Linked DNA regions of Homo sapiens: region 1 is linked to region 2. Evidence: fine-mapped expression QTL. Tissue or cell type: lung. Region 2 holds a variant in brackets; the other region holds the start of a gene. All regions are shown on one strand. Distances are from middle to middle. Region 1 holds the start of ANXA2R-OT1 (ANXA2R overlapping transcript 1). Region 2 holds the start of LOC105374748 (a long non-coding RNA gene).

The links.
Region 1: ANXA2R-OT1 starts here. The variant in region 2 is fine-mapped to the expression of ANXA2R-OT1 in lung (TOPMed, PIP 0.92).

The regions. Positions count from the first base shown.
Region 1 is chr5:43,065,879-43,068,780 of GRCh38, forward strand. It overlaps ANXA2R-OT1 (ANXA2R overlapping transcript 1), which reads right to left and starts at 1,561. Exons shown (of 3, transcript NR_104651.1): 1 at 1,420-1,561; 2 at 1,209-1,279. LOC100132356 (a long non-coding RNA gene) reads right to left here and starts at 1,093. Exons shown (of 1, transcript NR_034127.1): 1 at 1-1,093. It overlaps LOC100506639 (a long non-coding RNA gene), which reads left to right and starts at 1,145. Exons shown (of 3, transcript NR_102752.1): 1 at 1,145-1,908; 2 at 2,092-2,339. RefSeq lists an enhancer at 773-1,172.
Region 2 is chr5:43,017,033-43,019,891 of GRCh38, forward strand. All of the region lies in intron 2 of ANXA2R-OT1 (ANXA2R overlapping transcript 1), which reads right to left. LOC105374748 (a long non-coding RNA gene) reads left to right here and starts at 1,113. Exons shown (of 3, transcript NR_188279.1): 1 at 1,113-1,640; 2 at 2,204-2,284. RefSeq lists enhancers at 442-681, 1,080-1,602, 1,142-1,281. The variant T/C (reference allele first, on the strand shown) is at 1,214.

The DNA.
Region 1 (2,902 bases), 49 kb after region 2:
AGAAATCAGGAGTTTGAGACCAGCCCAGGCAACATGGCGAAATCCTGTCTCTAGGAAGGATACAAAAAATTACCCGGGCGTGGTGGCGCGTGCCTGTGGTCCCAGCTACCCCGGAGGCTGGGGTGGGAGGATCGCTTCAGCCCGGGAGGCGGAGGTTGCAGTGAGCCGAGATCGCGGCACTGCACTCCAGCCTGGGCGACAGAGCCGGACCCCGTATCAAGAAAGAAAGAGAAAAGAAAAAGAACCAAAGAAAAAGAAAAGTCACCATCGCACGGTTAAGTCTGCCTTGCTACAGCTAAACAGTGACTTCCTAGGACCAAGAAATCGCAGCCAGGGCTAGACCGATGCCCTAAATCGGGACTTGCTTAGGCTGAGAAATCACATTTTGGCTAGTTATTTGGACAAGAGGTAGAAATAGCGGGCACCGCGAAATCGAAACTTGCTAGGACCAAGAAGCCAACGACGGGCGAAACCGCAGGGGCCTGCGATAGAGACGCCAGCGGCGCCGCCGGGGGACTGGGTTCAGGAGGCCGAGCAGGAACCCGTGCGTCGGCGCTCGCGGCGCTGTGAAGAGACGGCGTCCGCGCAGCTCCTCTGCCTCTGGCTCGGAGGAGCGGCGGGCTCCCCCGCCCAGCGCCGGCGTCGCCCGGGAACCCCAGACTCTGCGCAACTGGCTGCGATTCCAAATCCCTCAGATCGGCTACCAGAGCGCTGCCGCCACCGAGAAAATGGAGGCACCGAGGAACAAGATGTGCCGCGACCAAGAGAACTCGGCTTGGCGAAATGGCGGTGCTGGGACCCTAAGAGTGACGCCAGCCGGAGGAGTTCCCAAGGACAACATCCATTTTGGCGGAACCAACGGTGTTGTCACGCAGAAAATGTCGACCCTCGGAAAAGAGAGGTTCTGCGACCGAGAAATTCGGTGCAACAAGTGCTGTGACAGAAAACCCCCCGCTCGGCGCTGCTGGCGAAAGAGCCAACAAAACGCTGGGTGCTGCCACCGTGACACCGACTTTAGGACCCCGGCCTCGGATGGAGAAAGGAGGGTACGGAGCCACCACATAACTTCCTAATGTCTTCAAATAGCGAAAGTGCTAGCCGGAAACTGCCGGCTGGGTTTACCTATTGGTGCTCGTGTGGGACTAGCAGATTCGAGAAACCAGCGGGACTGGAACCTAGTACACTTCGGCAGTTGAGAAATGACTTACCAGGACAAATACTGCTTCTGGCTCGATGGTGCTGCCCATGAACATCCGCCGGCTCTGAGAAACGAGCTGCACTGTCAGTGAGAAACCGTGGGCACTGAGAAACGAGCGGACTGCAACTGATAACTGCCCACCCAGTGCCACTACGACAAAGTGCTGCTGGCACTACTCCCACCCTCCGTCCTCAAATCAGTCCCCTCCCGCCTAAGAAGACCTTTATTTTTCCTAGCGAAGTCATACTGAGGGCCCCATCAACCGATCCCTTGCGATGCGCATGGGAAAAGGAGGCAGTATAGGGACCGAGAATCGGGCGGATTGGGCTGGCCCTGGTAACAAAAGCCATCCGGGTCGCCAACCGTCTTCCACTGCAAGAAACAAACCTTCCAGTGGCTGGGCTCCGCCCTTCTCCTTGGTCAGAGCCCTCCAGGCTCCTAAGGGCGAAGCCGACACCTCATCCCTTTGGAACTTGAAGTTCTCAGTCCAAGACCTCCGTGGAGAGTGAAAGACTCAATGCCTCCTGACCGAGGCTTCAGGCCTGCCCCGGCAGCTAGGTACCTCTCCAGGGGATGGAACTCTGTGGGAACTGCTATTTAATTCTGATGGTTAACTCTGTCAGATGGCCTTGATATATGGGAATAATCGTTGCAGGAGGGTAGGGGAAATAAGAATCGCAAGACTCTAGCACAGGACGTGTGGATTGATGGTGAGGCCTTTGCTCCCTCTCCCCTTGAAATCCTCAAAGGGCAGTTCCCGATTTCTATCACCTTTGAAATTCATCCCTGATGTCTTCTCCATCTTTGGGAAGTGCAATGCAATTTCAAGCTCTTGAATCTTCCCTCTCCCACATTTGTCAAATATACTGACGCTACAAACTCCTTTCTTACAGGAAACCTGAAACTGCCATTGAGCAGAAGGAAAACATCCCTTTCCAGAACCTTTCTCGTTTTTCTAAAAATCTGCACTTTTGGAAGTGATCCCCCAAAGAGACCTCCAGACTCTACCATGAGTGTCTCCAGCTGAACTCATCGTGTCTAATCCTCACCCTAGCTTATCCTGTTCAAATCATTTCCATCTTTTTCTGGATGAACCTGGGCGGATGTCAGACCAGAGAAGAGCACAGAATGTACCAGAGAGGTAAGAAGACCCATTTTGGGCTCTCACTTCTCACCCACTCCCAAGATGGTCACCTCCAGTCTTCCCCCCTATACCTTACCCTTTCTTCAGCTAGCCAAAACCTGCCCTGGTACTTGAGGCTTCTTCAGTTGCCTTCTTTTGCAGGCAGTAGAATAAAGGAAAGAGGGCAGTGTCAATAGAAGAAAAGTTACAGCCACTTTATCTAATTGAAGATACTGTGCAGAGCCTTTGAAAAAACAAAATATCTCACCCACCATTCCTCTCTCCGTTTCCACCCTAGCTTCCTATTTTAGCAAAAATGGTGGGATCAGCACCTCTGGAGGGAAGGGGTCACTCTTCCAGGTTAGGAATGTGGACAGGAGTTATGGAGCTTACTTCCCTAAAGGAGGAGGCATTCTAGTTCCGGCATTCAGATTCTGTCTGATTCCAATATGGTGTTTGTGTGGGGTGGTCAGAGAAAGGGCAAGTCGGCAACTGTATATTCCTCAGCAAGAGACTATAAGACATTTGCATTTGGAAAATCAGGAGAGATGCTGATATGGTTTGGCTCCGTGTCCCCACCC
Region 2 (2,859 bases):
TCAGTCTGAAAAGTGAGGAGATGGAGGATTTGAGCACTTACAAGTTCACCTGCATTGCATTTCCCAGAAGATAGAAATCAATGATGCATTTTGAAGATCATGCTGCTAGAGACAGAGAACCACAACTTGAGCTTTTCTCTGGGCTTAGAGAGGAGGTGTATGTCTCGCTGTCAATTCTACATCCAACGCTGGAATCTTTCAGCCCATTTTCCTCCCCGGCTGTTTTTGAACTACTATCCCCAAATATCGAGGATATCTGACAGAGTGAACCATCAGAATAAGGAGCGATTGCCACAGAGTTCCATCCAGTAGGGGAGGGACTTGATGTGCGGGGCAAGCCTGATGCCCGGGTCAGGCGACTGTGCCTTTCATTCTCCACGGAGATCTTGAACCTAGAGTTTCCAAGTTCCGAAGAGATGCGGTTGTCGACAGCTCTCCTAGAATCTCTGATGGCTCTGAACGGGGACAAAGGTCTAGGGCAGAGGGATGGTGTGGAAGGACCCAGCCACGGCCATTGGAAGAGCAGTTTCCTGCAATGTAATGCTGTTTGCGACCAGCATAAGCTTTAGCTCTCTCCCAGGACGAGCCACATCCGCCCCATTCACGGTCCTTATTCCAGCTCCTTTCCCTCTGCGAATCACACTGGGTGGGTCGCTGGGGGCCTCGGTAATTACGGATTATGGCACAGCCAAGAAAAATACAGGTTTTCTTAAGCCTGAAGCCACTGACTTGAGGGGGGAGAGTAGGAGTAATGCCAGCAGCAGTTTTGTATTTGGTTTTTGTTTTTATATTCTAGTCTCTAGGCCACAAGACAATGTTGCACCCAGTGCCAGTCGATCCGTCACGGCGCCGCAAACTTTCCCTGAACGGAGGGTTTGTGGCTGACATCTCTAGTTTCTCAGAGCCTGGGAGTGATCACTGGCTGCACCGCTGATGGCGCCCAAAAGAACGCGCATTTGTCTTTGGCAACAGCGCTGGGTTTCGCCTCGTGCCCGCGCCTGAAGGGTCCTAGCGCCGCCAGATTCTCACACTCGCGGGTCCAGCGCCCAGCGCTGCTCCTCCCACCAGTCATCGGTTTCTCACACGCACTTCATTGGCAGCACTGGCGAGTCAGTTTTCCGGTGGCGGCGGCGCTAGTTGGTCTGCACGAAACGTTTCCCTTCTCGCTCCGTGTGTCCCATTCTCCATCCCACGTCCTCCAGTGCCGGGGTCA[T/C]GGTCGCAGCACCCGGCGTTCCCGTTGGCTCTTTTGCCGCTGCGCGGAGCCGGCGGTTTTTCTGTCACAGCACTTGTACGGAGTTTCTCGGCGGCCGAACGTCTCTTTTTTTCTCAGAGACGACGGTTTCTTGGTGACAGTACCGTTGGTTGCGCCGTAACGAATGTTCTCCTTGACAGCCCCACCAGCTGGCGTCACTCGCAGGCTCCAGACGCCGCCATTTCGCCAAGCCGAGGTCTCTTGGTTGCGGCACTGCTTCTGGCTCGGTGCCTGTATTTTCTCGGTGCCTACAGCGCCCAGGTCGCCGATCTGAGGGCTTCGGAGTACCGGCCGGGCGCGGTGGCTCACGCCTGTAATCCCAGCACTTTGGGAGGCCGAGGCGGGCGGATCAGGAGGTCAGGAGATCGAGACCATCCTGGCTAACACGGTGAAACCCCGTCTCTACTAAAAATACAAAAAAATTAGCCGGGCGTGGTGGCGGGTCCCTGTAGTCCCAGCTCCTCGGGAGGCTGAGGCAGGAGAATGGCGTGAATCCGGGAGGCGGAGCTTGCAGTGAGCCGAGATCGCGCCACTGCACTCCAGCTTGGGCGACAGAGCGAGACTCCAACTCAAAAAAAAAAAAAAAAAAAAAAAGAAAAGAAAAAGAAATCTGGGTACCCGCGAATGCGATTTTTTTTAGGTTTACCGATGATCAGTTTAGCAGTGCCTGGGAGCTCTTATACCAAGTTTGTTTTCGCAATATTGAGTCCCACCTTAGCTAAGCTTGTGTGTATTTTAAACTCCCATGGAAGTCAGGAAATGTCCGCAAACGCGATTTCTGGTTACCAAGCTCCGTTTGGCAATAGCAAGTCCTGCCGAACGCGACTTTTTCCTCTTGTGGACCAAGTCTGAATAGACCAGCTACTGCGATTTTTAAGTCGTAGTAAAAAAGGTTTAACCGTGACTGCTTTTTTTTGTTGGTGTTGTTTGTTTTTGTTTTTGTTTTCGTAGGAAATGTAGACTTAGGTGTAACATGTACCGGTTTAGATCTGACAGAGATATCACAATTGTAGGATTGCATCTTTTAGCAAGGTTTGTAATTTCTTCTTTCTAGGATTGGTTCTCTGTAATTTTTGCTTATTTTTAAATTCTCTCTTTGTCTTTTGCTCTGAGAACGATGTTACCGATGTGTTTGCTTTCCATGTTTACTTGCATTTTAGCCTTTATTTTTTTAATTTTGATTTTATTTAAATGTTATGTATTTTTTTTCTACTAATTTTGAGCGTCTCAGCTTCCTGCTTCTTTACTTACATTCTCTCAGGATCCGGGGAGCCGAGCTCGGTCTCAGTCTCCCTGCTGTCAGGTGCCAGGTTGTGTCTGGTGGCTCTCCTTCGTATGCGGAGCTGATGGTTTTGCATCAGCGCTTTTGCCAGTAGAGCCGACTAGCGTTTTCTCAGTTACGGCACCGTTCTTAGCGCCCAGTGTGACGTTTCCCATTCGCCAGGTCCTTATGTTCTCTGTGCTGTCACTTTCTTGGTTCTCGCACCGCTAGTATCTGCTAAAGAACTTCCTAAACCATGTTTTACTGTGCAGAACGGTGATTGCACGGAGCCGCTGTACGCACTAGTAATTTCATAGCACCGTTAGCTGGCGCTTTTTCTGTCACA